Homo sapiens: one gene and its partner. The protein of the gene in region 1 binds, or shares a complex with, the protein of each later gene. Each region holds a gene or a part of one and is shown on either strand. Other genes may lie near its edges. The genes, in order: ACVRL1 and BMP10. A codon is read from its position in the direction of its gene.

Evidence for each region.
Region 2: the proteins of ACVRL1 (region 1) and BMP10 are in contact, whole or in part, in a crystal structure (PDB 6SF1), measured with the Homo sapiens proteins. Residues at the interface, in NP_000011.2 of Homo sapiens: His40 (codon at 11,232), Val54 (codon at 11,274), Val56 (codon at 11,280), Arg57 (codon at 11,283), Glu58 (codon at 11,286), Glu59 (codon at 11,289), His66 (codon at 11,310), Gly70 (codon at 11,322), Asn71 (codon at 11,325), Leu72 (codon at 11,328), His73 (codon at 11,331), Glu75 (codon at 11,337), Leu76 (codon at 11,340), Phe84 (codon at 11,364), Val85 (codon at 11,367), His87 (codon at 11,373); in NP_055297.1 of Homo sapiens: Tyr322 (codon at 7,360), Asn357 (codon at 7,465), Tyr358 (codon at 7,468), Pro359 (codon at 7,471), Ala361 (codon at 7,477), Glu362 (codon at 7,480), His363 (codon at 7,483), Pro366 (codon at 7,492), Thr367 (codon at 7,495), Lys368 (codon at 7,498), Ile371 (codon at 7,507), Leu375 (codon at 7,519), Leu378 (codon at 7,528), Lys379 (codon at 7,531), Ser381 (codon at 7,537), Lys386 (codon at 7,552).

Annotation. Positions count from the first base shown.
Region 1 is NC_000012.12:51,901,924-51,917,626, forward strand, and holds the start of ACVRL1 (activin receptor type-1-like isoform 1 precursor), read left to right. Parts: upstream 1-5,580; 5' UTR 5,581-5,772; intron 5,773-10,459; exon of another isoform or gene 10,460-10,546; 5' UTR 10,547-10,551; coding exon 10,552-10,612; intron 10,613-11,175; coding exon 11,176-11,427; intron 11,428-11,635; coding exon 11,636-11,847; intron 11,848-12,050; coding exon 12,051-12,150; intron 12,151-12,515; coding exon 12,516-12,662; intron 12,663-13,301; coding exon 13,302-13,577; intron 13,578-14,112; coding exon 14,113-14,310; intron 14,311-15,619; coding exon of another isoform or gene 15,620-15,703. UniProt on the Homo sapiens protein: Type I receptor for TGF-beta family ligands BMP9/GDF2 and BMP10 and important regulator of normal blood vessel development. On ligand binding, forms a receptor complex consisting of two type II and two type I transmembrane serine/threonine kinases.
Region 2 is NC_000002.12:68,857,599-68,873,301, reverse strand, and holds BMP10 (bone morphogenetic protein 10 preproprotein), read left to right. Parts: upstream 1-1,904; 5' UTR 1,905-1,943; coding exon 1,944-2,277; intron 2,278-6,730; coding exon 6,731-7,671; 3' UTR 7,672-12,393; downstream 12,394-15,703. UniProt on the Homo sapiens protein: Required for maintaining the proliferative activity of embryonic cardiomyocytes by preventing premature activation of the negative cell cycle regulator CDKN1C/p57KIP and maintaining the required expression levels of cardiogenic factors such as MEF2C and NKX2-5.

The DNA of each region.
Region 1 (15,703 bases):
GCCAACGCGGAGATGATAGAGATGTTAGAATCGTATGACAAAAATTTTAAAGTGGCCGTTAAAAAAAGGCTTCAGTAGCCGGGCATGGTGGCTCATGCTTGTGATCCCAGCACTTTGGGAGGTTGAGGCGAGTGGATCGCCTGAGGTCAGGAGTTTGAGGCCAGCCTGGCCGACATGATGAAACCCCATCTCTAGTAAAAAATGCAAAAAATTAGCCGGGCGTAGCTGGGTGCCTGTAATCCTGGCTGCTTGGGAGGCTGAGGCAGAAGAATTGCTTGAACCCAGGAGGCGGAGGTTGCAGTGGGCCAAGGTCAGGCCATTGCACTCCAGCCTGGGCAGGAAGAGTGAGACTCCATCTCAAAAAAAAAAAAAAAAAAAAAAAGGCTTCAGTAAGTAATTAAGAACAATCATGAAACAAATGAAAAAAATCAAAAATCTCAACAAAGAAATAGAATGTCCCAGCAAAATAATAATAAAAATTTAGGAGATACAAAGAACCAAATGGACATTTTAGAACTGGAAATTGCAGTAACTGAAATAAAAACTCATTGGATGAGCGCAATAACAGGGTGGAAGGACAGAGAAAATAATCCTTGAACTGGACAAAAACTGGTTGTTTTGTTTTGAGATGCAGTTTTGCTCTTGTCGCCCAGGCTGGAGTGCAATGGCGTGATCTCGGCTCACCGCGGCCTCTGCCTCTTGGATTGGGGTGATTCTCCTGCCTCAGCCTCCCTAGTAGCTGGGCTTGCCGGTGCCCGCCACCACGCCCGGCTATTTTTTGTGTTTTTGGTAGAGATGGGGTTTCACCCTGTTGGCCTGGCTGGTCTCAGGCTCCTGACCTTAGGTGATCTGCCCACCTCAGCCTCCCAAAGTGCTGGGATTACAGGCATGAGCCACCGCGCCCGGCTTCTATAAGTTTTTTTCTATGTTTAAAACTTTTAATTTCATTTTTGTACTTAATTTTTTTTTTTTATTAAACACACACATTAGCCTAGGCTTACACAGGGTCAGGATCATCATTATCACTGTCTTCCACCTCCACATCCTGTCCCACTGGTAGGTCTTCAGGGGCAGTAATGTGTGGAACTGCTGTCTCCTGTAATAACAATGCCTTCTGGAATACTTCCTGAAGGACTTGCTTGAGGCTGCTTTAAAGTTAACTTTTTTAAAAAATAGAAGATGCACACTCTAAAATATAATAATAAAAAGTATAGGATATTAAATACATAAACCAGTAGCATTGTCATTTATCATCAAGTATTGTTTATTGAACATAGCTGTACATGCTGTATACGTTTCTATGGCTAGCAGCGCAGTGGGTTTGTTTATACCAGCATCAGCACAAACACATGAGTAATGCGATGCGTTACTACGACGTCAGTAGGCAACAGGAATTTTTTGGCTCCATTTATAATCTTATGCGACCATCATTGTATGTGTGGAATATTTTTGACTGAAACTTCATTATGCAGCAAATTACTATATTAGCAAATAAAATTGAGCTATATATAATGAAGAAGTACACATTATAACCAAGTGGGTTTATTCCAGGGATGTAAGGCCTGGTTCACTATTAGAAAATCAGTCAACATAGGCTGGGCACGGTGGCTCACGCCTCTAATCCCAGCACTTTGGGAGGCCGAGGCGGGTGGATCACCTGAGGTCGGGAGTTCAAGACCAGACTGACCAACATGGAGAAACCCCTTCTCTACTAAAAATACAAAATTAGCCAGGTGTGGTGACAGGCACCTGTAATCCTAGCTACTAGGGAGGCTGAGGCAGGAGAATCGCTTGAACCCAGGAGGCAGATATTGCAGTGAGCCGAGATCACGCCATTGTACTCCAGCCTGGGCAACAAGAGCAAAACTCTGTTTCAAAAAAAAAAAAAAAGAAAAAGAAAGAAGAGAAAATCAGTCAACATAATCTACCGTATTAACAGACTAACAAAGAGAAATTACACAATTCGTATCAGTGGATGCAGAAAAGGCATTTGACAAAATTCAATAGCCATCCATGATAAGAATACACACACACACACAAAAGAGGAATGGGGGAACTTTCTCAATCTGATATAGAGTGGCTACTACAAGAAACTTACGGCTAACATTATGATTAATAGATTGAGTGTGTTCTCCTAAGAGAAACAAGGCAAGGATGGCTGTTCTGTTTTGACCACTCTTATTCAACATAATGCTAGAAGTTTTAGCTAGTGCAGTCAGGTAAGAAAAGGAAATAAAAGATATGCATATTGGAAGGTAAGAAATAATACTGTCTCTATTTGCAGATGCAGATGACTGTCGATGTAGAAAATCCCAAAGAATCCATGAGGGGTAGAAAACCCAAATACCTCACCCCCTTGAATAAGTGAGTTCAGCAAGGTCACAGTATACAAGATCAATATGTAAAAATCGATTATATTTCTATATAATTTAATGAACAAATGGACACAAAAATTAAAAATAGCATATCCTGTTTATAATTGCTTTTAAAAAGTATAAGTGTAACAAAACACATAAAGGAGTTAAATGCTGAAAACTACAAGAACACTGATAAATAAAAGAGACCTAAATAAATGGAAAAAAAATATATCATTAAGAATTTTAAGATGGCAATGACAGCGCATTAAACCAAGCATGGGGCCCTGTGCATCTGCACAGGTCACACTCCCATGAAGCCAGCCCCGCACTAGTATCAAGAGTGATGTTTGAGTCTGGGTGGGGTGGCTTATGCCTGTAATCTCAGCACTTTGGGAGGCTGAGTGGGTGGATCAGCTGAGGTCAGGAGTTCGAGACCAGCCTGTACAACATGGTGAAACCCCGTCTCTACTAAAAATACAAACATTAGCCAGGCGTGGAGGCACGCATCTGTAATCCCAGCTACTTGGGAGACTGAGACAGGAGAATCACTTGAACCTGGGAGGCAGACCTGAGATCACGCAACTGCACTCCAGCCTGGGCGACACTGTGAGACTCCATCTCAAAAAAAAAAGAATGATGCTTGAACTTAATACTCATAGCTGGTCCTGAAAGGTGAAGGTGTCCATTGCCCTGCCTTCCTGACAGACTCCATGTCACCCACCTTCCACAGATGAGAATCTGCTTGAGGTTTCACCCCACACAGAATCTCCAGGCCTCTGCTTCCTGCAGTGTTGGGAAATCCTTCTGAGTATCTAAATCTAAATCTTTGTCCTTTGGGCCTGTTTCCTCTTGTTCTGTCCTCACTGAATATGGGGAACAGCTGGTCCCTCTGAGTAATTAATTCTTGTAGACTTGGACACAGTCTGTAATTCCTTTTCCCTTTTCTCATTGGGATGACTCTCCAGGGCTTTCTCCAACTCTGGATCTCCAACTCTGACACCTCCCCCAGGTTCTCTGTGTGCTTTGGAAGGCATGGGGTTCACAAGAGCCCCAAAGAGCACCAGTCAGGGGCCAGAGGGCTCAGTGCTCTGGGGAGATGGGGAAGATTCCAGCACTGATGAACAGACTCCAGCCCCCCCTGGGTCCTCTCTTCCAGCTCCCAAAATGTACTCTATTTTTATCTGTTTCACGAACGCTGGTCCAGATAGTCTTCCATCCCCCACTGACTGTTAGAAGTGACTCTCAGCTTTTGTCCATCTCGAAGTTTCTGTGCTCAGTGTGCCTCTCAGACTAAAGGCTTCCTTTGGGAAGCCCCGACTCTCGCTTCTCAGGACAGAGATCCAGGGGTTGGGGGAGGAAAAGGTTGACCAGAAGCCATAGCGGAGCAGGGAGAGAGAGTGTGAAAGACAGACCCGCGGCCAGGCTCCCAGTTCTCCAGCTCGTAGAGGGCCCAAGTGGCCGCTATAATCTGAAAGAGCAGATATCGTAATCCCATAGTACTTCCTATTGGCTGCAGGACACAGTTCTGTCCTGACACTGAAATTTGGGTGTGTCAGGGTTCTGGGAATTCACAACGCTCACAACTTGTGAAGCAGCTGTGGGGTGGGGGATGGGGAGGGTTTCAGCAGAGGAAGTGAGGTCAGTCAATAATTGATGCCTGTCTGAGCTTTTAGCCATTATCTCCCCCAGCCTCTATTCCTGTCAAAAGGTGGGGCGGGGCAGGAGGAGGGGTCCCTGGCTCATCTTGTAGAATCCCCATATTAGAGTAAGACACCTTAGAGGTCTACTCCTGCTTCTAATACCCACGTCTTTCCAAGTGTCTCTGAGGCCACCCCCTCCCCAGCCTTTTCATTTATTCATTTAATTAACGAACGCCTTCATTGAGGGCCTCCTCTGAGTCAGGCTCAGCCAGCCAGCATCTTTGCTATGAGCTGAGATAAGCATCATTTCCGTCTATTCTCACAACCACCCTATGAGGCTGGCACGGTTTACTATGCCTATTTAGCAGATGGGGGACTGAAGCATGGAGAGGTGTCACTAGCCTACGGTAACACAACCAGCCTGCATTCCTAGTAGGTAGTTTGACTTCAGAGTCTCTGTGGATAACCAGGAGGCTAGGACTAAGACCAGAGTCCTGCAGGTACTTAGATGGTTGGAGCAAAGCAGGGCAGTGAGGTCAGTGCTCCCAGCCTGTGCAGGAGCATCAGGAAGAGTCTGTGTCCCCCTCCCCTGCCGGTATGAAGCCATTCTGCTTCCCTCCCCAGCTGCCTTGTGTCAGCAGAGTTCCAGGGAGGCTCCATTCCCCACCTCTATCTAAAGCTCCATTTGCTGGGGTGGGGGCCCTGCCTGGAAGGGGAAGGTCCAAGGCTGCTCCCAGCGTGTCCCTCCATCCTGACTGTCCCTGGCGGGGCGGGGGTGTCTTTGTCACCCAGCTGCACAACGGCCAGGAAGGGCTCAAACCATCCTCAGGGCTAACCCAAGGCCGTCCTCTGGGCCTGTATACCCCTGTGCTGAGTGCGGATCGGGAGAGGCTGCTGAAGACAGGAGGGGACAAATGGGGGACGAAGGGGCCCGAGGGAGGGGACTGAAGGATTTGGGCCAAGTCGGGAGTTCCCGAGGGCGGAGTCAAAACGCATCTGGATTTTGCTAGCCCCAAACTCTGCCCTCATTGCTGCAAGCCTCCTAGACCGAGGACCCCCGGGCTGAGGGTGGGGTAAGGATAGGTAGTGTCCCTCCCCGTCCCACCCCCGCCTGTCCCTTCCTCGGTGGCCCCTTCCCGGCGCCCCGATTCCAGGCGGCCCCTCCGCTGCTGCCAGCCGATCCCCCTCTACCCCCACCCACTACTCCGGCCGCCAGACGTTGCCTACAGTCTCGGCTCTGTCTCCCACGGCTGTGGGTCCGGACCCCACGGGACCCCTATGGGACCCCCACAGGACCCCCACGGCCTGAGTCCAAGGCCCGCCCCCTCGGGGAGGCGGATGTGGGAGGCCCGGCCCGGGTGCGGGCCAGCGACCCGGGAGCTGCGGGCGGCTGGGAGGGGAGGCCGCCCTGAGGGGCTGGGAGCGGCGCGGGGGTGGGTCCCGGTCCTGCAGCCCCAGCGAGGGGCGAGCGGCGGCCAGTCGGCGAGCTGGGCAATAAGGAAACGGTTTATTAGGAGGGAGTGGTGGAGCTGGGCCAGGCAGGAAGACGCTGGAATAAGAAACATTTTTGCTCCAGCCCCCATCCCAGTCCCGGGAGGCTGCCGCGCCAGCTGCGCCGAGCGAGCCCCTCCCCGGCTCCAGCCCGGTCCGGGGCCGCGCCCGGACCCCAGCCCGCCGTCCAGCGCTGGCGGTGCAACTGCGGCCGCGCGGTGGAGGGGAGGTGGCCCCGGTCCGCCGAAGGCTAGCGCCCCGCCACCCGCAGAGCGGGCCCAGAGGTGAGTCGAGGTCCGCGGACGGGACCGGGTGGCGGGCGGCCTGACCCCCGCTTCAGTGGGCCCTTCCTTCGGGCGGACCCCAGAGTCACCGCAGAGTGGTCGCGGGAGGCTCAGTCCCAGCTCATTAGAAAGGCAAGCTGCTCCTGGCTGACCACGCACAGCTCCCATGACCCTACCTGAGACTTGGAGGGGAATGGACGAGACTGGACTGGAAATCAGAAACTTGGTTCTAGTCGGGTGACCTGGGGTCAGTGACTTCACTTCTCTGTTCTCCTACCCTCTTCATAAAATGGGCAGTGGGATTCCTGTCTTGCTCTACTCACATAGAAGGGATCACACGTCCTCCAGGCCGCTGGGTGGACCTGGAGTGAATGCCTACTTCCACAGCTGTTGAGCCTCCCAGCAGAGCTCACCTTTCCCAGATCAGTCCTTCCAGCTGTTGCTTGAGGAATCTGACACTATCACTCCAACCTAGGAGTCTCACCCTAGGCGCGCATGGTCAGTCACCTCCTTGCCACGACCTTCCTTCAGGATCCAGGCCAAAGGGGATCCCAGTCTCCCCCCAGGCTGGGACCCCAGATTTTTCCATGGAGGCCAGTGCTGTGAAACCCATGGCTGGGCTGGCTGCCCCAGCTCCTCTTTCCTTCTCCAAGGACAGGGGCATAATGGACAGTTGCTCTCACTCTCTCTATGTATGGCCAGCTTCTGGCTGAGTCAGGGTCTGTCCTAATACCTGTCCTCTCACCTGTCCCCCCATTTCATTGGTTTGTTAGAAATAGCTACCATTGATTGAGTACTAACTATGTAGACACTTAGATATATATATTTTTTCTCATGTAATCCTGGCCGCAACCTAGTGGAAGAGGGGTTACTATCCCCTTCCTACAGAAAAGGAAACAGACATGAATATGGGACTTGTCCAAAACTCCTTGGATGGTGGGGTGAATGGCATGGTTGGGGTCTTGATAACATTTCAGTGCTTACTGTGTACTACTTATACTCTGCTAAATAATTGTACTACATTTTACCTATGAGATAACACTATTATTATTCCCACTTTACATATGATGGGAAGCCTAAGCCTCAGAAAGTTTAAGTAACGTCTCAAATTTCATACCTCTAAGTGGCAAAGGCAGGATTTGAACCCAGGTCTCCATGCTCCAGAGCCCACACCCTAACCTCTGTGCTACACTGTGCTGCCTCCATGGTCTGCCTGAGACCTGAAAATCCAGGCATCACCTGGATGTTCCACTGCATCACCCCGCTGTGAAGGGCTAATAAATCACATGGATGAATCGTAAGGGCAACCCAATATGAACAGCTGGGTCTGCTCCTCTGCTGTTGGGGTAAGGCCTACTGAAGTGCAGAGTGAGTCCAGAAGGTTGTGCTTGATATGGCGCTTCTCCAGCCCTGTGAAGATCACTGCTGTGCTGAGCCACTGCCGTTGATGGGAGTAGGTTTTATCAATCCTTCAGGTGTGCTAGGGAGAAAAACATTGATAAGCACCTTTCGGGCATACCACTACTCTGGCTCTCCCCACCTGAGGCTCAGACTTTGACTAAGCCTATGGCAAACAGATGATTTCTGGGCAGCAACACCACCTTTGTTGCCTGGGTCAACATAGTGAGACCCTATCTCTACTAAAAATAAAACTGGGCATGGTGCTGCACCCCTGTAGTCCCTTGGGACTTGGGAGGCTGAGGTGGGAGGATCACTTGAGCCCAGGAGTTCAAGGCTACAGTGAGCTATGATTGCACCACTGCACTCCAGCCTGGGCGACTGAGCAAGACCCTGTCTCAAAAAAAATTAAAAACAAACAAAAACGCTGTCTTCATTTAAACAAATCTGAGTAGGGCACCCGTTAATAACAACAGTAGTGGGCAATTTGTACACGTCCACCGAGACCCATGTCTTTTTCTTCCTTTGAGGGACTCATCTAACCCCAAACAACTGGAGGAATAACAATGACCAAGGAATGATTTATTATCAGCAATTTAAGTTTATTAAGACACGCTCAGTGACTATGGACAAGAAACTGAACATCTCTGAGCCTCACTTTCCCCCGTTGGACTGTTGTGATGATTAAATCAGATAAACCATTCAAGTTCAGTACTTAGCACATAATTAGTACTCAGAGAAGGTTAACTGTTATTATTAAGTATTTCATAGTGTTTAGCTAACGTTTGAAATTAGTTTAACGTCTGTAATTTCTGGCCAACAATAGTGATGCTTCTGTCAGCAGGAGATCTTTCACAAAGTTTTGCTTAGAAGTGAAAGGATCCTGCCAGGCCCCAGGAGTCTGTCTGTGCTACAGTCAGATTTCAGGGTAAATCGTACAGAGTCAGCTCTGAGTTTGGACTGGTCGGGACTCAGCATCCTCCTGTACTTGATCTCACACTGGGTCCAGTTAAAAATTGGACAGTCCCAATTTTACTCCATCACATTCCCAGGATTAGACCATAGATGGGTTCTGCAGATGCAGACAGCCTCGCTCCACAGTGTCACCACGTCCCAGCTTTGGTGTTTACCCTTGGCTGTCCCTTCTGTAGTAGATGGGGAGTATCCTGGGTGGGAGTGAGTGTCCCCTCCCTCTGCATCCCACTCCCACTCACCCAGCAGGGCCCTGTACAGCAAAATGAAAGCAGAGGAACCAGACTTAGCGTTGTGCCCACACAAACTGATCAGAACTCCCTGGGGAACTTTTAAAAAATGCATGTTTCTTGCTGATTCCAGGACTGAATCAGAGTCTGGAGTGAGGGTGAAACCAGTGAATATGCTTTTCTCAGTGAGCACTTCAGGTGATTCTGATGCGTGATAAAGTAGAAGGAGGGTGGACTGGGGCACGGCCAGAGAAGTAGAGGTACGGACAGAGGATCCTAGAGGAATGCCGGATTTTAGCCTTATTGTTAGCCACTTTTTCCTTTCCACCTCAAACCCTCTCCTTTGCAGCTTTCTGGGCTAGCAAAGGCTGCCAAGGATGGCTTCCTGCTAGTACCCCAGTGGGCAGATTCAGCTCCTCTAGGGTGCTCTCTCCATCCCATCCCACCGTCAGTCCTGCCGCACAGTGCTAGCCAGAGTCCTCACTGGCTGCGGGAGGGGCAAGAGGCAGGAGGTCAGGCAGAGGCTGGGGACACAGCTGCAGCAGCCCAGGGCTCTGTTTCCTCCCCCAGCCTGGGCCTCTGGGGCAGAGGAAGCCCAGGCAGGAAGGCCAGGCCTGCCACCAGCCAGAGAGGCCTATGAAGCCCCCCTACCCCACCCCTAGCCATACTGCCCTCAGAGCCTCAGCATCTTGGGTCTTCATTTGGCACCATTCTTAGACTATGGGCTTTCTGAAGCCTCTGTGGCCATGTGCCCAGCCCTGTCAGGCTCACCATGTCATGCCAAAGGACAGTCTCCCTGCCTTGTGCCCTGCCTGAGGATCCAGTCCCCAGACACACACCTGCACATGCTCCACCATTCAGAAAGTCCTGTTGCTGTCTGACCAGGGTCCTTCTTGCTGCAGCTTTAGCCAATATCTTCTGGTTCTAAACCTGTGAGAAATGAAGACTGGGTGGCTTCAGAAGCACTAGTTGGTGTGGGACCTGGATTGGGGACTATCATAGACCAGAATTACTCCCCCTAACACTCTCCAACAAACTTCTGGAAAAGTTCAACCCTAGTCAGCCATGGAAGGTCAAACATTCAGTGTCTAAGTGTGTTTCACTTCCCCTGCCACATCACTGGCCCTCCACCCACCCTTTCCTAGATGGCAAGGGGAAAGAAGGGGGCCAGGGAACAGCTCCGAGAGGGCAGCTTATACTCTGGTGAGCTTGCAGAGAGGTTTCTCTACACCTGGCATGACCCTGCCCCGTCCGAGCTTTGCATGGTTGTTATAGCCCTGAGGGCTCAGACATGGGCTGCCACCACTGGATAGGGACAGAGCGAAGAGAGCACTTGATTAGGAGTCTGGAAACCTGGGATGTACGCCTGCTGGTGCCAGTGAGTCCTGTCTGACCCGGGACAAGTCTTCTTCCCTGTATGAGCCTTACTCCTCTCTTCTGTAAAACAAGGAGCTGGATTTTGTGATTCACAGGATGTCCACCTAGAATTCTGTCATGTGGGTGTCCCAGGCACAAGGAACTAAGGGTAGCAAGGAACTAAGGGCATATTTAAAAAGCCCCTCCAGACCTTGTGGCTGCTGCAGCCCACCCTGAAAATATGCCCTCAGTTCCCTGCTGTGCGTGACTCCTGCCTGTTCTATCCAGACCCCAATCTAAACAATCTTGATTCCTGTTCCTGGCTTGGCAGGACCCTGAATGGCAGGAAGCGAAGACAGGAGCCTGTTTATGTTTGAGGCAGCCAGGGCTGGGGGGGCATTGAGAAAGGGTAGGCAGGGGTGGAAGCTGTGAGGGAGTGGGAAAGAGACACAGAACAGAAGGGGAGCTGCTGGAGAGATGCTCCTTCTACCCCAATTGGGTGCTCCCTGCGGCTCTCCCAACCTGCCTGCAGTCTGAGCTCAGCAGCAGGAGTGCAGAGCTAGGGTTTCCCCAAGCTCTCAGTCACTTAAACATTGCTCTCCACCCTTCACCTCTAACAGGATGGTTTCCATGGGGAAGTGAACCAGGACTTCCCCTGCAGGCCCCGCCCCAAAGCCAGGCGGCAGGGAGTAGGGAGGCGGCCTCCCTGCCTCCCCTCCAAAAAAAACTCTGTGATTTCCTCTGGGCAGGAGGGAGCCACGGCCAGCGGCTGTCACACTTCATGGCTCTTACTCCACCTCTCTTGCTCCTCTCTGCAGGGACCATGACCTTGGGCTCCCCCAGGAAAGGCCTTCTGATGCTGCTGATGGCCTTGGTGACCCAGGGTGAGTACTGGGGGAGCAGTTAGGAAACAGGAACCTGGATACAGAAAGGGCTATCTGGGCCCAGATCAGCTCTGCCTGGGGCTGAACTTGAGAAGCTGGGGAGAATGTAGGAGCTTGACTGGAGAGTGGAGGACAGTGAGGCTCCATTAGACTCAGTCCCCAGCTACCCCAGCCCTCCTTTGCTCTCCTCTTGATCCAGACCTGCAGGCTGGAGCTCTGTCAGACTAGGGTGGAAGCCTATATGTGGGGTGGAGGGAGAGCAGGTGTTGGCAGGCCAAGCCTGGGAGAGCACTCAGGGCTGGGGCTGGGGGCCCAGCCCAGCCTAGAACTGGGAGGGGAGGACCTAGGAGCCAGGAGGGGACAAAAGCCTGCTTTTCAGAGTGTCAGCTGCTCTGAGGGGAGGGTTCTGAGGGAAGGATGACTGAGGATGAAAGTAAGAGACCAAAGCTTCAAGGTGTTTGTCTGAGGGGTCAGACGAGAGGGACAGTAGGACAGAAATGGGTGTCGGGCTCAGCCTGGGGGAGCTGGGACCACAGTGGCTGAGCTTCCGGTGTGTCTTCCAGGAGACCCTGTGAAGCCGTCTCGGGGCCCGCTGGTGACCTGCACGTGTGAGAGCCCACATTGCAAGGGGCCTACCTGCCGGGGGGCCTGGTGCACAGTAGTGCTGGTGCGGGAGGAGGGGAGGCACCCCCAGGAACATCGGGGCTGCGGGAACTTGCACAGGGAGCTCTGCAGGGGGCGCCCCACCGAGTTCGTCAACCACTACTGCTGCGACAGCCACCTCTGCAACCACAACGTGTCCCTGGTGCTGGAGGGTACGTCCAGCTGCCCTAGCACTCCCTCCCCATCTTCTTGGCCCCTGCCCTCCCTTCCCTCCTTTCCTCTCATGCTCTGGCCAATAAAGGGGCTGGGGGCGGGGGAGCGGGTGGGCAGGACTCTGGGATCTAACTGGCAGAGTGGTCTGGCCCGAGGTGGGGGGAGCTGACCTAGTGGAAGCTGAGCCTCAGTGTCCCCCTCCCTCAGCCACCCAACCTCCTTCGGAGCAGCCGGGAACAGATGGCCAGCTGGCCCTGATCCTGGGCCCCGTGCTGGCCTTGCTGGCCCTGGTGGCCCTGGGTGTCCTGGGCCTGTGGCATGTCCGACGGAGGCAGGAGAAGCAGCGTGGCCTGCACAGCGAGCTGGGAGAGTCCAGTCTCATCCTGAAAGCATCTGAGCAGGGCGACAGCATGTTGGGGGTATGGGCCTGGGGACCTGGGACACAGGGTGTAGGAGGGGCAGATAGGAACTGCAGAATCAGAGGGGTCACCCAGAGATTAGAGCCGGTGGGGAGCTGGGCGAGTGAGGAGCTTGCAGTGACCCAGCAGGTCCCAGGTCGAGGATAGAGAAGGGGGCTGTGGCTGGTTGTGGCAGCCTCTCAGTGGCCTCTCCGTACCCCCAGGACCTCCTGGACAGTGACTGCACCACAGGGAGTGGCTCAGGGCTCCCCTTCCTGGTGCAGAGGACAGTGGCACGGCAGGTTGCCTTGGTGGAGTGTGTGGGTGAGCAGTGGGTGAGCCCGGTGGATGAGGACCAAGGGCTCTCATGAGCCTGGAGGGGTGAGGGAGTTTTTGGCTACTGGAATCACAGGCGGTGCCAGGCCTGGGTCAGAATTGGAATTCTGCTGGGCAGGGAGTGGGCTGGAGACGGGCCAGGGCTAGGTTCTTCTTTCTGCAGGACCGGGGTGGAACGAGAGGCAGCTGGGGGTGGCCTGCCACTGGGTTTGGGTCTGGATTAAGTTAAACCTAAGGGTCTGGGGTTCTGTGGGTGGGGTGGGCGAGGGAGGCAGCGCAGCATCAAGATGGGGGGCTCTTCCAGGGCTCTGTGTGCCCAGTGTGTAACCCTCACCTTCCCCTCTGGCCATCAGGAAAAGGCCGCTATGGCGAAGTGTGGCGGGGCTTGTGGCACGGTGAGAGTGTGGCCGTCAAGATCTTCTCCTCGAGGGATGAACAGTCCTGGTTCCGGGAGACTGAGATCTATAACACAGTGTTGCTCAGACACGACAACATCCTAGGCAAGGGGAGAGGCCAGCTGTGCCAGGCCTGGGGCTTTGCCCCCCTGCACTCAGGGCTCAAGTTTGCAGACCTCCAGACATTAACAGAACCCTGAAGGACTCTCAGCCCACCTGCAGCATCAACCTCTTTTTTTAATTTAATTTAATTTAATTTAATTTAATTTAATTTAATTTAATTTTTGAGACAGGGCCTCGCTCTGTCACCCAGGCTGGGATGCAGTGGTGCAATCTCACTGGAGCCTCAATCTCTTGAGCTCAAGTGATCCTCCCACTTCAGCCTCTTGAGTAGCTGGGACCACAGGCATGTGCCACCATGCCCAGCTAACTTTTTTATTTTTTGTAGAGACGAGGTCTCCCTATGTTTCCCAGACTGGTCTCAAATTCCTAGGCTCAAGCAGTGCTCTTGCCTTGGCCTCCCAAAGTGTTGGGATTACAGGTGCAAGCCACTAAGCCAGGCCCAGACCCAACCTCTGACTCCAGCTCTGTCTCTGACCTAAGCCACATCAACCCCCACCCCCAGACCTAGCTTAGCAGTGACCCAGTCCATTCCCTCTCCCCCAACCCCACCCTGACCCTGACGACTCCAGCCTCCCTTAGCCCCAGCCCCTTGGCTGAGTCACCCAACCTTTCTGCACACAGGCTTCATCGCCTCAGACATGACCTCCCGCAACTCGAGCACGCAGCTGTGGCTCATCACGCACTACCACGAGCACGGCTCCCTCTACGACTTTCTGCAGAGACAGACGCTGGAGCCCCATCTGGCTCTGAGGCTAGCTGTGTCCGCGGCATGCGGCCTGGCGCACCTGCACGTGGAGATCTTCGGTACACAGGGCAAACCAGCCATTGCCCACCGCGACTTCAAGAGCCGCAATGTGCTGGTCAAGAGCAACCTGCAGTGTTGCATCGCCGACCTGGGTGAGCCGGGCGGGGCAGGGGCGCGCCCTTCACAGGTGGGCGGAGCTTGTGCGCTCTCCTCTCCTTTGCCTGTGGGCGGTGACCATGATTAGCACTTGAAAATTTAGAGGTGCATGTTGTTTCAGTTCTCCTCCGCAAGACCCCACGAGTTGTCTGAACACCCTTTTCAAACCCAGATTCCTTCCACCATACCATCCTGGCTCCAGGAGTTGGGAGAAAGGAGGCAGGAGCCAGGAACCTGGGTTCTCATCCTGGTTTCGCCAGCCTCCAGGTCTGCTCTGTGAAGTGGGCTCATAATGCCTGCCTTGCCCACTCACATCTCGCTGGGTTCTTGGGAACCTAGAGAGCACTACACAAGCAAAGAGTACCTGGGGCCATGGTTCTCTCTGTGGCCACTGCCTTCCAGCCCATCTCCGTGCACGTCTCCATCTGCCTTCCCCTCTCTGTCCCACTGTTTCTCTCAGTCCCCACCTTGCCTGCCCCCTGGATCCCAGGTTTGGGAGAGGGGCAGGAGTGACAGGCCTCACCCCCACAGGCCTGGCTGTGATGCACTCACAGGGCAGCGATTACCTGGACATCGGCAACAACCCGAGAGTGGGCACCAAGCGGTACATGGCACCCGAGGTGCTGGACGAGCAGATCCGCACGGACTGCTTTGAGTCCTACAAGTGGACTGACATCTGGGCCTTTGGCCTGGTGCTGTGGGAGATTGCCCGCCGGACCATCGTGAATGGTGAGGGCCCACCCTACACAGGGTAGGGAAAGGGGAATCAGCCTGTGGAGCCAGGGGCTTCCAGCCATGGCCAGTGCCCATGGCCTGGGAGGTTTGCAGTCAGACCTCCTGGCACCCCTTCCATGCTGCCCACCAGCTGGTTCAGCTGAGTGACCTTTTAAGGTATAAACCTTAAAAACAGATAACAGGGTCTGTGAGTCTGGCTGTGAAATCTTGGGTACATGATAATAACAGAAATATTAATAGCAGCTAATATTGATTGAGCTTAAATATGTGCCAGATGCCATGCTATGCACTTTACATGTATTATTTAATTCTTTGGTATGGACAAGGCAGTGGTATTGCTTAGTGGCTAAGAGCATAGGCTTGGAATCAGACTTCCTGGGTTCTATTCCTGATCTTGCCATGACCGTGCGTAGGTTATTTGACCTCTCTGTGCCTCAGCTTCCTCATTTGTAAAATGGGTGCGATGGCTCATGCCTGTAATCCCAGCACTTTGGGAGGCCGAGGCAGGCAGATCACCTGAGGTCAGGAATTCAAGACCAGCCTGGCCAACATGGCGAAACCCTGTCTGTACTAAAAATACAAAAATTAGCTGGCTGTGGTGGCACACACCTGTAATCCCAGCTACTCGGGAGGCTGAGGCAGGAGAATCACTTGAATCTAGGAGGCAGAGGTTGCGGTGAGCCAAGATCATGCCACTGCACTCCAGTCTGGGCGACAGAGTGAGACCCTGTCTCAAAAAAAGAAAATTTATTAAAATAAATAAATAAAATGAGAATAAAAATAGCTTCCAGTTGTTGAGATAATCTAAGTATTTAGAACAGTATCTAGAGCTAAATATTAGTGGCTGTTATTGTTGTAGATAGAATGAGTGCCTGACATCATATTGTCCCCATTTTACAGTTGAGGAGACGGGGGCACAGAATGACAGTGGGCTTGAGGCAGCATCAGGGTCCGAAACCGGGCAGTCTGCCCCGGGGCCAGTGCTCATCATCACTGTGTGCACTTAAACCTCTCTGGCCCTTGATTTCCTCATGCACGCAATGCATGTGAGTGCCTGCACTGCCTGCTTATTGCTGCCTGGTTGTTACTGTGGGTTGCCACAGGGGACTCTGATTTAGAGGGACTGCGACAGGTAGAGAGACCTGCCCTGGGCAGGCAGCCCTGAGGTCGATGTTCTCTCAGCCCTGGAGTGGACGGAGGATAGGTGGGTCGTCTAGACTGGTGGGAGCATTGTCAACCTTTGAGGAGGCTGTCCATGGTGAGGGACTTCCAGGAGTCGTGACAGGTTGGGGACAATCCTCAGGATATGGCTGGAGCCCTGCTTCTTGGGGACAAGGATGTCCTCATTTCCTGAGCATCTACCAGGAGCCAGCCCCATGCCAGACTT
Region 2 (15,703 bases), on another chromosome or scaffold:
AACGATGAGCATGAATATAGGAAAATTTAACCTAGAAACTGAGAAAGGATTCCAGTGAACCAAATATCTTGACACAGCCCTTGGAACACAGCACCAGGACGCGTGAGTAATGGTGTGCACGTCAGAAAGATACCAGAACTACCACCTCAGTGGGAAAAACATCCCCTGGGCTTGTCCGCAGGGCCTCTCTGGCTGCACCCCGGCTGCTACTGTCACTAGTTAGAATGGAAAATGTGATGAACCTGATTTGTCTTTCCTAATCTGGACACACAATCGATTCTACCATTTTTATTTTCAGGACCAAGGCATTTGGCGTTTTTTGTGTGCCTAGTAATGTTGTTTGCCGAGTGTATTAGTCAGGGTTCTCTAGAGGGACAGAACTAATAGGGGATGGAGATATATTTCTGAGTTTATTAAGTATTAACTCACACGATCACAAGGTCCCACAATAGGCTGTCTGCAAGCTAAGGATCGAGGAGAGCCAGTCCAAGTTCCCCGACTGAAGAACTTGGAGTCCCATATTCAAGGACAGGAAGCATCCAGCATGGGAGAAAGATAGGCTGAAAGTCTAGGCCAGTCTCGTCTTTTCACGTTTTTCTGCCTGCTTTATATTCTAACCGTGCTGGCGGCTGATTAGATGGTGCCTAGCTAGATTAAGGGTGGGTCTACCTTTCCCAGCCCACTGATTCAAATGTTAATCTCCTTTGGCAACACCCTCACAGACACACCCGGGATCAATACTTTGCATCCTGCAATCCAATCAAGTTGACAGTAAGTATTAACCATCACACCAAGCTTTTGCTGGAGCCTCTTGATGACAATTTTGATTGAGTCAGAAGGATGAATTTCGCAGAGATGTTGGTTATATTAACAACTCATTGCACAGATGGAGGACCTGAGGTCCACATCCAGCTACAAATTTCTGCCTGCCTCCTGCCTCCAGGCTGATCTGGGGACGTGTTGGCCTCTCAGCATTATTGCCCATGCCCTAGTCTGGTAGAAGAGTGGTTTAAAAGTGTGACTGTTTTATTCTTCATAAGAATCAGGCTGCCTTGGTTGAAATTGTGGCCCCATCACTTTGCAACTTTGTGGCCTCTGGCAAGCTATGGCACTTCACTGACCCATATATGTGATGGAGATAATGATACGGTTATTACAGGAGCACACTTGATGATAGGTGTAAAGCACTCAGTACAATGCCTGTTTGTAGGAAGCATCTAATAAATTCTAGTTGCCAGTATAACTAAGCACTTGCCCTATTTTTCAAATGCTATTTTAGCCAGATCAAATAGGTAGGAAAAAGCCTGTCAATCATGAAGTTTATACTTTCCTGTTTCTAAAAAGGTACACTTCTAAAAATTTATATAATTCATTTATAGCTATTAACTTAAACTTGGAAAGTTTGGATATTTGGTCTGTCTTCACAAGTGTTTATCTGAGCCCTACCTCTCAAATTAACATGTATCACCATTGATGTGCATTATGTTGATTCTTATACCTATTATATGCATGTGTGAAACTAAGCCCCATAAAAACAGAATTTAGGCATTCCTGCTGAAAGGAAGTGAATTGAAGGGAAGAGAAGCAGAGCCTTTGCAAAGAGAAAATTGTCCTATCTCTCAACCAGTGTCAGAATGTGGAAATGTTTACAAAATGCTCATTAAAAGAAATAGGGATTGCAAGATAGAAACAAATTCTGGTGCACAAGTTTACACTAGGGAGATAAGAAAGGCTAGGCCCCTATAGGGGATTTTGTTATCCAATTACTGCAACCTGACTTTTAGGGGGAGAGGAAGAGTGGTAGGGGGAGGGAGAGAGAGAGGAAGAGTTTCCAAACTTGTCTCCAGTGACAGGAGACATTTACGTTCCACAAGATAAAACTGCCACTTAGAGCCCAGGGAAGCTAAACCTTCCTGGCTTGGCCTAGGAGCTCGAGCGGAGTCATGGGCTCTCTGGTCCTGACACTGTGCGCTCTTTTCTGCCTGGCAGCTTACTTGGTTTCTGGCAGCCCCATCATGAACCTAGAGCAGTCTCCTCTGGAAGAAGATATGTCCCTCTTTGGTGATGTTTTCTCAGAGCAAGACGGTGTCGACTTTAACACACTGCTCCAGAGCATGAAGGATGAGTTTCTTAAGACACTAAACCTCTCTGACATCCCCACGCAGGATTCAGCCAAGGTGGACCCACCAGAGTACATGTTGGAACTCTACAACAAATTTGCAACAGATCGGACCTCCATGCCCTCTGCCAACATCATTAGGAGTTTCAAGAATGAAGGTAAGTTTTTGCTGATGAAATTTTGCTAGGATTTTTTTCAAGACACAATAAGTAAATTTACAATGCATGGGAATGATATAGGTAAGGGTAAATACATCTATATAAGGATGTTAAATACATATGGATACACAAAAACAAGGCACATTTTGTTCTATACCAATTATATAGTCATTTCAGGAACCTCGAAAAATACTTACAAACATCTTTTAATCCAAAGCCACAAAACATCTATCAATTTGACATCATAATTGGGTCCTTTTAAAAAATGTTAATTTGAACACCAAGTAATACAAAGAATTAATGTTGGTCTACTGCCGTACCTTTGTCATTTTCCAAATAGGCCTTGATTGCCATATGGGCTTTTAATTAACTAAAAAATTTCTCAACTTCTACTTAGAATAAAAAGGGTAAAAACAGTCAAAAAACATCAAATTGTGATTTGTGTTTTGTTCAAACTTTTGATAAGTTTTTATTTTGTGACCTTATTTAAGAAATGTTCAAACAGGATGGAAATATATTTTAAAGATTCTTCCTAAGGCTGTGTTGTTTGATGTGTCATGTACATCCTTAAAGCACTGTTTACAGTTTCCAGGAAGTGTAGATGGCCCATTAATCATCCAGCTCATCATTTCCGTCTTTATAAAGAGCAACGTACAAGCTTTGAATTATTGGTGGGAAAAGTGTGTTTTCTTCTCTTAGGTCTTTAAATTTGGTAACTAAATCTAATGAGCTAGCAAGTTAATGTTTTTGTTTGTTTGTTTGTTTGTTTGTTTTTTGGTTAATATGGTCCTAGTAGGAAAAAAAACCCCTGATATCTAGATATCTATAGTAGAAGCTGAAGGTCCAAAGGAACTAATTTAATTTTTGCCAGTTATGCTTTTATAGTCACTAACCAGGTATAAAAGAAGCTTCCCGTTAATATTGGCCAGATGTTCTTGAAAGAAGAAAGGTAATAGTGAAGAAATAGCTCAGGATTTGGGATTTTGAGAGCTAGTTGGCTTAGTGGTTGTGAATAATTAGCTGATGCCTCAGAGCCTCAATTTCCTCATCTATAAAGTGGGAGTAATAATACCTACATAACATAGTTGAGTGACTCAAAGGAGGTTACAGATAAGAAAGCACTCCATTTACTATGAAGTGCTGATCAAACTTTAGTGACTACTAATGAGTTACTTAATATTCTAGGTACTGGAATAAATGTTGAGTAGGTATTCCTTAGTCCCTAAGATATTATCTCCCTTTAAAATTGAGTTGGCTGCCAAAATTTATAATTCATAATATCTTTCTCATGGAAATGGCAAGTTGAGATTACAGATTGCTTTTGGAGGTGAGTCTGAATTGAAAATGAACAACTTCCTCCTGTAAGAACCCTCCCTAATACTTCTCAGCACTGAGCCCTAAGTGTCTGGCTCAGGGTGTGGGTGAGAAAATGTTGTTTGCATCCCCTGGAAAACTAGAAACGTTTTCCGTTCTCACTTCTCTCATAGAGTATCTGGATGATCCAGGTCAGGATGTGGAGTTTACTGTGCTTATTATTACTGGAGATTATTGAGGGCAGGAACACATCTCTTAGTAAACAACCCAGCCGCCAGCACCTCTGCCAGTCTGCAGGAAATGTGCAGCCTGAGGACAGAAATCGCACAGGACATGCCCTGTTGGCTACTATTGCCTCTCTTCTGACTCTTTGGATCTGCTTAGTGCAGCTCCCTAGGAGAGAAAGACCAAAAAAACTCCAAACCTACCCCATCTTGGGAAAAAAAAGTGCCACCTCCAAGGTGAAAAAAGCGTGCTCCTTTATCACCTTGTCATTTGGGGAAATCAGTTATCTGCATCAAGGCTTGATTTATTCTGGTGCAAAACGAGTAGAGAATCAATACCTGCATTATGGGGTCATTGTGAGAACCAGAGAAGATCATGCTTGCAAAGCACCTGGCATGAGAAATTTGTCAACAAACATTCGTTCTCTTGCCCTGAAATGTAACTCTTCCATCTATTGCTTACTGCATTTGCACATGCACAGAACTTCACAGTGAACTTACTTTTTCAAAACAGCTTTATTGAGGTATATTTGACTTATAAAAATATGACATATAAAAATATTGATGTATAAAAGTATAATCGCACATATTTAAAGTGTATAATTTGAAAGGTGTTGACATATGTAACATTCATTGAAACCATCACCACAATCAAGATCATGAATATATCCATTAAAACCAAAAGCTTCCTTGTATACTTTGTAATGCCTTCCTCCCACTACAGTGAGCTCTTATTTTATACTTTTCTCCTGGGTAGAGCAACCAGCCTACTCTTCCATGTTCCCTGTCCATGGGGAGTCAAGTCTCTTCCCTTCTTAGAGTGGAAGAATAACTCCCAAGCCCAACCCAAGAGCTTGATGATGGATTAAGGTCATATGTCACGCCCATAAATCAATTTAGTCTGGTGCCTAGAATCATCAACTAATCAATATTTTTAAAGCACTACCTCTGTTTAAGCCATCATAGTAGGATAGAGACATAGAAGGGAGTTTTGAGCCATTCAAACCAGGAGGATGGCAATCTAGTTGGGAAAATCCATTCATAAAAAGATGGCTGAAATATAAGGACGTAAATGACAAGGATCAAAGGAGATATAAAGTGATCAAATGATTTCAGAGGGGAGAGGAGGGAACTTTCAGATGAGAAGTAAGGGAGGCTTTTATAGGAGATGTCAGAGCTGGATAGGTGGAGGTGAGGTGAAAGGGCTTTCCAAGGGTCAGAAGAACATGTGAAAAGGTGAAAATTGCAGGGAAAAAAAGAGTGTTTTGACAGGTGGTAAAGATATCAATGTAGTTAAAACAGAAGGGTTTACAAATCCATTCAATTGTTCACAAATATTATTGAGTAATCACAATGTTCCATGCACTGTGGAGGACGTATGTAAGCTATGGCTGATCAGGAGGTTAAGACCCAGATATAGCTGGTCTTGAGAGCCATGCCAGGGAGTTTAAATTTATTCTGTAGGTCAGCATTTCCCACTAGCAGTGTGTAAGATTAATTTAGGTGGTACCCAAAGAAAGCTATTAATCATGTGAAATTATTGTATATTTTTCTTAGTATGGATTTTTAGCAAACACACATAAATATCACCTCAAATCTCTCCTTTAATGAATTATGTTGCTTAGGAACAGTCTAAAATAGATAATAAGTATAAAATAATTAGATCAAATTAAAGAAAAATATTAAAAGATTATAATCTGAAACAGGGACTCACCGAGATCATGAACTAAGTATAAACTTGGGGAAATGCTGCCAATGATGACAGAGAACCCCCAGTTGGTGGTCCTTAGCATCTTCGGTGCCATGGAGTCCTTTGATAATCTGATGGCAAATGCCTTCAGGGCTTCCTTGTAGACTCATTACCTGAGGCAAGTGTGCAGGAGCTTTGGGCTCACTGTGAAATATTCAGATAGGAAGTCAACATGATCGTATTTGGAAGTATGCTTCTAAGACTAAAGGACTTTTACAGAGTTGATTCATAAACATTATTGAGTGAGTTATACATGTCACGCCCCATGCCAGGTGCTAGGGGTACAAGACTAAGGCAACCAATCTAGTCCCAGGATTCATTTTCTCCCATTCCTCTTTATAGAGAACCATATAACCAGCAGTCAATTGCTGAGACCCTCTTGGTTTATGGCTGTCTTATTGGCCTTGTCAGGCTTTGTTGCCTAGAACAGAAGTCAGCAAGTTTCTACTGTAAAGGGCCAGACAGATAATAACTATTTTAAGCTTTGCAGGCTATATGTTCTTTGTTGTATCTATTTAACTCTGCCATTATAGTGCAAAAGTAGCCACAGACAATACAAAAACAATGGATGAGGCTGTGTTCCAATAAAACTTTATTTCCAAAAGCAGGTAGCAGGCCCATATTGGCCCATAGGCTATAGTTTACCAACCTCTGATCTAAATGGAGGTCTTTTAGGAAGACCAGTGTCCAGCCAACTGTGCGGGGATCTCCACCCACTACAAACACAAATATTAAAAAACCATGAAGTCCTCATCCCCGAAAAGCTTCAAGAAAGGAACAATCACCACATGTCCCATTTGGTGGCGTTTTGTTTGTTAGGAAATTTGGGGACTTGCCCACACAATCTCCAAGGTCCCTCCCAGTTCTGTAATTCTGTGGCTGATGAGCTATTCAAGCAAGGTTGGCTGAGTTTTATGCCATCCATTAGACCCCCATTTTCCATTTTAGTCTTGGCAGCTGAACTCTTTTGGGCATTCTACCACTGACCTTTTGGGATTTCCTGTGTCACAGAATGCTGACATTGTGTTTGTTCTCATTGATTTTCTCCCTTCATTCTTTCTGCATTAAGCTTTGTGCATGGGAAGGCCTTCTTATTACATAAATAAGCATCTGTTTTTCCCTGAGACCCACTGCAAACCTGATTTTTGCAAATTTCTTTTTTCAGATCTGTTTTCCCAGCCGGTCAGTTTTAATGGGCTCCGAAAATACCCCCTCCTCTTCAATGTGTCCATTCCTCACCATGAAGAGGTCATCATGGCTGAACTTAGGCTATACACACTGGTGCAAAGGGATCGTATGATATACGATGGAGTAGACCGGAAAATTACCATTTTTGAAGTGCTGGAGAGCAAAGGGGATAATGAGGGAGAAAGAAACATGCTGGTCTTGGTGTCTGGGGAGATATATGGAACCAACAGTGAGTGGGAGACTTTTGATGTCACAGATGCCATCAGACGTTGGCAAAAGTCAGGCTCATCCACCCACCAGCTGGAGGTCCACATTGAGAGCAAACACGATGAAGCTGAGGATGCCAGCAGTGGACGGCTAGAAATAGATACCAGTGCCCAGAATAAGCATAACCCTTTGCTCATCGTGTTTTCTGATGACCAAAGCAGTGACAAGGAGAGGAAGGAGGAACTGAATGAAATGATTTCCCATGAGCAACTTCCAGAGCTGGACAACTTGGGCCTGGATAGCTTTTCCAGTGGACCTGGGGAAGAGGCTTTGTTGCAGATGAGATCAAACATCATCTATGACTCCACTGCCCGAATCAGAAGGAACGCCAAAGGAAACTACTGTAAGAGGACCCCGCTCTACATCGACTTCAAGGAGATTGGGTGGGACTCCTGGATCATCGCTCCGCCTGGATACGAAGCCTATGAATGCCGTGGTGTTTGTAACTACCCCCTGGCAGAGCATCTCACACCCACAAAGCATGCAATTATCCAGGCCTTGGTCCACCTCAAGAATTCCCAGAAAGCTTCCAAAGCCTGCTGTGTGCCCACAAAGCTAGAGCCCATCTCCATCCTCTATTTAGACAAAGGCGTCGTCACCTACAAGTTTAAATACGAAGGCATGGCCGTCTCCGAATGTGGCTGTAGATAGAAGAAGAGTCCTATGGCTTATTTAATAACTGTAAATGTGTATATTTGGTGTTCCTATTTAATGAGATTATTTAATAAGGGTGTACAGTAATAGAGGCTTGCTGCCTTCAGGAAATGGACAGGTCAGTTTGTTGTAGGAAATGCATATTTTCCTCTCCAGTTAAGTCCCTTTCAATCTGTTTTCTCTTTGGACTTGCCATTTCCTGGCAATGCCACCTCCCTGTTGATTTGAAAACAACCCCTAGGCAAAATACAGTGTCAAAAGACACACACTTGTGTATGTATATTTGTACATACATGAACTTACAAAAATCTTTTGGTTCTATGCAGGCAGGTTATACTCATCTACATGCATGACTCACTCAAATGTATGCATATTAAAGGCCAATGGTATGTTCTCTGTTACCTCTTCTCTGAGTAGGATTTAAGTCAAGATAATTGACATCAGGGTTTTAATCATCCTAGGAAGTATTACCCTTCCTAAATACTCTGGAAATGTAAGTGTAGCTTTTGTCAGTTGAGTTTCTGTAGTTGCTCAGAGAGGAGGGGCCTGGCAAAGGATGCTTGAAGGGAAGGGTTAATTGATACAGAAACCAAATGGACTTAAGAGGTCTTAGAGGTACAACAGGAAAAAATGAACCCATGGAGGACCAATGTGCTCCAGAGGGCAACTCCTGGTCAAGGCAGGAAAACAGAAGAAACCAGCATGAAATCTGTTCCTGAGACAATAGGAAAGCAAGGCCATGAGTACTGGCCATTGCTGCTGCAGAGAGTAGAGGGGTTGGGAGGGTACTTGAAGGGGAGAAAGGGAGAAAGGGAAGAGGATATTGATGTTATCCTCAGAGGCTATCCTCAGATGTGTCTGTAAAACCAAAAGTGGTTCTGTTTAAAGAATTAAATCTTTTGGACAAAATAGAAGTATCAAAGACTAAGAGGAGGAAAATCAGAAGGGGTCTGTCTGTTGGAAGAAAGGATGTTAATATCTTTCTTCACCTGTTAACACTGTTCCCTTGTCTCAGCACCCCTGCTTTCCTCTGCTCCATCTTCTTCCTTCCCTCTTTCTTCTTGGCCCTAGTGCCTCTCACCTTCCTCCCATCCCTGTGTCCCTGCTCTTCCCTGGCCTTCATGATGCATGCTGTGAACTGGAAAGGGACACCTAAGTGCCTTTGCTCTCAGGGTGAAAGGAGTTAGTGTTCTAATTTCTAAATCTTCCCGTGATATTTAATTTGATTTTATTTTAATAATATCCTTTATCAAATGTTTTGTTCATGAAGAATACTTAGATATAAGAGAAAAGAAAACCAGAATAAGTAAGTATAAGAAAAAGAAAACCAGAGTCCAAATGAATGGATTTAAATAAACGAATTTATGAATAGACACACAAGCAAATGACTCAAAAGCCAAGCCTGAATTTTGAAATCATGATTGTTTCATGGTAGAAACCCAGTAACTTTCCCATCTTCTCATCTTACCATCTTCCCATTTTGCAACTGGCCAGGACTGAAAGTGGTGAGGAAGTGTTCTGCACAGGAAGGGTCCGGTGGGTTTTCCTGGCAGGTGGCAGCCTCCAGTCTTAACCCCTAACCATTTCCCTCTACCTGGCAAGCATATTCTGGGCTTTGTGCAGGAGGAACCAGAGCAGAGCAGAGCAGTTTCCAAACTGTTCCAGCATCTCCAGGCAGGGAACATGGATGGTTCCTGTTAGAACCAGGAATGTGGTTTCCAGTACGTCATCCCCCATTCACCCCTACTCATCTTAAGGAATGCTTCCTTAAGAAGTCTGACACTTTTTTCTTTTTTTTACCCTGGAAAACAATCAGTCCCCTTTTACAAATCTCTTAAGGTTATAAACTCAAACTGCACTAGACAATAGAGGCAAGGAAAACTATTTTGAAGAAGGCCCAATTTGAACCTCAGCTCGCTAGATCTGTTGTCTGCTGGGTGAATCCTGGGGAATTCATTGCTCATGGAAGAGTGGTGTTTTGACCGTCAGTGGGTATACAGTGATTGATGCTTTGAGAAAGCCATGCAACTCAGAATCACTATTTGTGGAACAGCCTCCATATAACATGATGTGTGTATGTGTGTGTGATGTATAGCTGGCTTTGAATAACCACGCTTAATACCCTCAGTGGAACGTGGTGCATCCTTCATACTCCATGGTACACAATGTATACTCACATACTCCAAGGTACTTCTTATCCTTTCTAAAGGACACTGTAATACATACACAGTAAAACCTCAGCTGACCAGGATAGTCCTGGTTAGATAAAAATTAAGCAAATTTTCTTTATGTCTAATACATATGACAGTGGTGTGCTGGTAAAACCCTTACAACCAGCAATCCAGGGGGAGAAAAAGCCCTGATTTGTGGATTTCAATGCTGCAAACGCTCCTACATGGTCTATCTTGAGCTGCCAAGGTGATGTCAACTGGCTTGCAAAACTTCTAAAACCTAAGTCAGCTCTTGGGAGCTGTGCACTGGTGCTGGCACACCGCTGACATTTAGTATCCCACTGACATTAGCACACCGCTGACATTAGCACCCTGATACTAGAATGTTAAGGATGTGCCAGCCCTGCTTTCCACTGTGTGCGCTGCTGGCTCCGGGCTTCTGGAGAAATCTTGTCTCGAGCACTTATAGTCACTCTTCTGTTAAAGAGATATGAAAATATAGGCTGTTGGCGATCAGGCTGCATAGCCCAGTTGTTTCTTTCTGCCCATCCAGATGTAAACCTGCATTTCTATGATTTTCTGCTTCCCTGTGGAAAGGGAGTGCAGAGAGCAACATATTGTTATTCAAATGTTGCTAGTTGTATTTTTTTGGCTTTTTGTCAGAAAGTGAAAAGACACAGCCCGTAGAGGAGTTCTCCCAGCTCCCACCGGAACCCCGGCAGCACACCGGTGTCACTTTCAACTCCTGCATTGACAGGAAGCCAGAATATTGTCAGATCCTTAAAAAGGTAGAATCTTACTAATGTTTCTCTGGTCATAGACCTTCTTCTGGGTCCCATGCCAGTTTTTTTCCCCCTTTTATTGCAGAATTATCATCACCGAAGTTGATATAGCTAAACAACTCTTGAGGAGAATTATAGCAGAGGGACTTGGGCAGCCCACAGCCAAAATATTCATGTAAGAGTTTCTAGGCTTCCCACTATTTATTGATTGATATATTTATTTTTGTAAAATATTGTAGAATACCAAATATTTTATTTTTATGTCTGTGATTCCCTTTTGGATAGAGAGTCTTCTGGGCTTCAGAGTATGGCTCACATATAATATATGGCCTGTATTTCCATCTCTCTCTTTTTGCATCAGAATATTCTATTGGTTTAAGGAATCTTGCCATAGCTTGCCATAATTTTGTATATTTGTGTCTTGCAGGCATGCTGTGCCTACAAGCATGCTTTGTAGTATATTTTCTGATTTGTAAATAGTACAGTTTTAACTGAAGTGTAGATGTTCCAGGAAATATTTAACCAATACATTGTCATGCAGTTTCATAAAGTGATGTTGTCAGTTTATCATGAGAAGCAAATATTGTCAGGCTGTGAGAGAATGTGATTGCTACTCAGTAAACGGAGATGCTATTTAAATGAATCTTTTCATCCCCCAAATCTGGTACTTCCCCTCTGAATTCACCTGTTGCCGTCACTGACCCAGAAATTCAGAGATGTGATTGGTCAAATTCATTTGTAATTGGACCAATTACTTTGTAAATGTCAAAAATGTTAGCTTAGTGATTTCCAAAAGAGTCAGCCCCAAAGTGCCGAATTCTTTCCTGATGTGTAAATTTTGGTCCGGGGAATTAATGACAAAAACCTTTTTTTTTTAAGAACTGTTACTAAATGTTTCAGTATTTGTTATGATTTATATTCTTCAAGTAAAAGATATTTTCATATAAGAGAATTTTATGTATTCTTCTTACTTGATTCATCAACAGATTATGAAGCCTAGCAGTGTTCTGGCAAAACCTTTTTAACTTGCCTAGAACACAGAAGGGATGTTGCCCTTTTTAAGGTTGTAGATCTTTTCAGAGTCACTGTGGGTCATTCTCAACCCTTTGCAGTTCTGCAAGCTCACATATGGTGCAAGAGGAAATGCTGGTATGACTCTGTGCATTTTCTTGCCCCCAAACAGGAACAGTTGATTTCCTACATTAAATGGAAGGTAGATGTGACTATGGAAGAGAAGTACACAGGGGTGTTTCTGCATGTGAAATATTTGTCATAAGTTAAAAACCCATCATGGAATAACTGTTTGTTGTGATCAGCATGTTTTTATCACACATGGGCACTGGTTTTGTGAGCACCTGGCTTGATAGTGGTGGGGCGGCCAATGTGCCAGCGCCCGCCTACTGAGCATTCATGGACATTGGAAATCAGCGAACACCACAGACACACCGAATCAGCTGATGCACGGTCATGTTCTGGGGTAAAACCTGTTCATTATCCATGTCCACATTTGTATAGTTATCACTAGACTAAAATGAAGATGGAAATAAATATTTTACCCTGTGTTCATGAACCAAATGTGTACCTTCAGAGTCTTTTTAAGTAAAATAAAAAAATTATTTTGGTGATAATTATTTGCAGCTTATTTTTCCTTGAGGTAAGGTATTTAATTTTGCACACTCCCCACTTTTTCATGTTTCTACTTGATAACATATCCCGATGGAATAAAACTAATTGCTATATTAATAAAGAATGGTCTGAAGAAACCATAAGTTGTTTTTGGCTTGTAACTGACCTCAGTAGGGAGTGGGATTTTGTAGCTCCATGGTTCTCCCACTTTATATGACTTTGTGTAATTCCCATTAATGCCACAGGCATTCACAGAAAATACAATTGGCTCCCTTTTGTCAGTAGCTGGGAAATATTTCTTCTTTGAATACCAAAGGAGGCAGTTTAGAGGTAACAGTCCTGGCCAACAGACAGACCTTGCTGCTTTTTCACGAAGGAAATTCATTCTTATGGCAGAATGTGGAATTTGAAGGGCATAGGGACAGCCCCAGGTAGAATAAAATCTCTTCCATCAGAAAATCATCCTGCATCACTTTTTTTGAGGGGACGCCTCCAGTGTCTCAGCTGGCAGGCTGAATCTGGCAAGTGTGTCGGAGGGAAGCACAGCCTTCATCCCTGGATGAGCACTGATAAGGTAAGACAGGGCTCTCCCATGGAGGAAAGGGAGCTGAGAGCCCAAGATGGGGCTGAGCCCAGGACTGGACTAAACAGACCTGAAAAGCCACTCGTGTAATTTGATTTTGAATTCTTTAGCAACCTATTCATTCTCTTCTTTAAATAAGTCCGTTTATAAAAGTCTGTCACAATGTGGGGTCTGGAACCCATCTCTGCAATTGGTTTGACCTGATCACAGCTATGCTGGACCAGCCGCCTTGTTCTGTGATTTCTTTCCTACTGATACAGCCTGGAATTGCACTAGGCAGACACACAGCTGCAAGTTATTTGGGGGGTAGTTTGTTTACAAAGTAAGATAAAAAATTATTTTCAAAGCTCACATTATACATTTATAATATGTTACAGGTTCTAATAGTATTCCTGATGTGAACTGAACTTTGTGGTATGGGGAAATCATGCCATGAGATCTCTGCATGTGACTCCAGTCACATGAATGAGAACCCACTTTTGTATAGAAGTGACTATTTGTAAATAAGGGGCCTATTTGGAGAAGGTGAGAGCTTGTTAACTTGGGTGGTTTAAATGGATTATGTGATTATCTCCAACTCACTCTCCTGAACTGTCAGTTTACAAGAAACAGCTCCTGCCCTCTCTTAACCTTCCTCAGACCATTCACACAGATCTAAAGTAGCTCATCTCATTCCAAGAAGAAAGCCCAGAAATGCATAGACAACGCAATACGTTTTTACTCTTAAATGTGATTCTGTGAATCTTATAAAAAATTTAGGCCACTCAGTTCAAATTAAGATTGATGGGAGGTGTGAAGTACCATTGTCAACTCAAGATTTGCTAGAAAGTTTTCACACACAGAACACTGAGCCCACTTCCTTGCACAGCATGGGAATGGTTTTAGAAAATTTAGTTCTAACTCCTTATTAGTATCTCACCTAAAATGCGTACCATAACCTTACTAATTATGAGGAAACATCAGATGAACCTATTTTAAGAAGATTCTGCACTCTTAAAAAGTCAATGAAAGGCAAAGAAAGATTGAGAAACCGTTATAGATTTAAAAAGACTAAAGAAGCATGACAACTAAGTGCAGTATGTGGTCCTGAATTGGATCCTAGACCCCTCAAAAACTGGCCAAAAGCACATTATCTTTTTGTTAAGTCCACTGCTGCCACAGCTGGTAGAGAGTCCAACTTCATCCATTGTATGCTCTCAAATGACATTCATTTGTAAAAATCTTCTGCATGGTTATTGCTCTTTTTCTGAAACTGTGAGAAGCTATACAGGAGTAACTAGGCTTTTGCTCAATGCAATGTCCAAGAAGCAGGCAGACAGCATTAAAAATGAAACCTTTCTTTGCTCAGTAGCCAAACTCAATGCAAGGAACAGAGCTGAAGGGAAATTGTTCATCACATGGCAAACCTGATGTTAATAAATGAGCTGCAATAAAACATTTTCCTGAAATAACCAAACTCAACATGCTTTTCAGGCAATAAGCCATCTGTTTCAAGTGTTTAGAAAACGGATCTCCAATCACTGGTAATTTAAACTTCCTTATACCCCAGTTCAATGTTTGATAAGGAAAGAGTGCTAACAGGATGGAAACTGAGTTACTATATTAAGAAACCCAGCAAGAACAAAAACCAGCCCCCTGCAGCTATTTTGTTTATGCTCCAGACCCATCTGTTTTAATTAACGTAATATTTACATGAGACCAGCTCCTGTTACGTCTTTTGCTGCAAATATCGCATGTTTTATTCTTTGTTGTTGTTGTTGTTCTTGCTTTTAAAAGAGATCCTGCAAAAGCACAGTTGCAGACTATGCCTGAGCGAGGTGTACACCGGGGAATTACACCTGCATTCTAGCTCCCCAGGTCCAGGCTCACCTGCTTTGTGCAGTTTGGGGTCAGATATCAGGTTGCCAGATGAAATACAGGATGTCCAATTAAATATGAATCTAAGATCAAACCATGAGTAGTTTGTTTAGTATAAGTCTGTCTCAAATGTTGTACAGAACATACTTATACTAAATAATGTTGGTTGACTACCTGAAATTCAAATTTGGTTGGATGTTTTTATCTGCTAAATCTGGCAGCTTAAGTCAGGTATTGCTCAGAAGGTTACATGAGTGGAAAGATCCAGAGAAAGATGAAGTCGTTTGCCTTTCCATGCCTAGAAGGGCTATTCAGAAGATGACTAATCACAAAGCATTAATTTGTTTACACTAAACAAATTATTCTAGTAAGGTTCATCATTGAAGAATAGCTTTGAGATTTGAAGTGGAAATCCCCTTGACCATGTCTGCCAATGCTAAAAACAGTAGTAACACCCCAAAATCATCATCCCCAGTTTATACGTGAAGAAATTGAGTCACAGTGAAGAAGGCATACTCTTAGAGGTCATTCAACCAGGCAGAAGCAGAAGTAGGATTGCGAACCCAAGCAGCTCACTTCCAGCAATCAAGCCCTTCCCTGCTCTGCCATGCTGCCTTCTACTTAAAACCACAAAAGTAGTGAACTTTCACATCCATTTTCCTACAAAATCTGTCAACAAACTGGAAACCCCCAAGCTTTAGCCAGGCGACACTGAGTGGGCCTCATACCTCAGGATCCAGGCTGCCTACCATACTTCCATCCCTCCCCTGGGGCTTTTTCCTGTCTCTTGCTTTCCTTCCCTCTTTGGAGCTGTTCTTCACTACTACATCTTTAAGAGTTTTCTCCCTGCAATACAGGTGCTTCCTCTTCCTGCCCTTTCTCAATGTATGGGTCCCATAGGTTAAGAGCTCACTGAGAATTCTGCAGAGATAGACACGGAGTGATGACAAGGACAGAGCAGAGTCATATGCACAGGTTGGATAACCCTATAGAGACCCTGGGGCACTCAT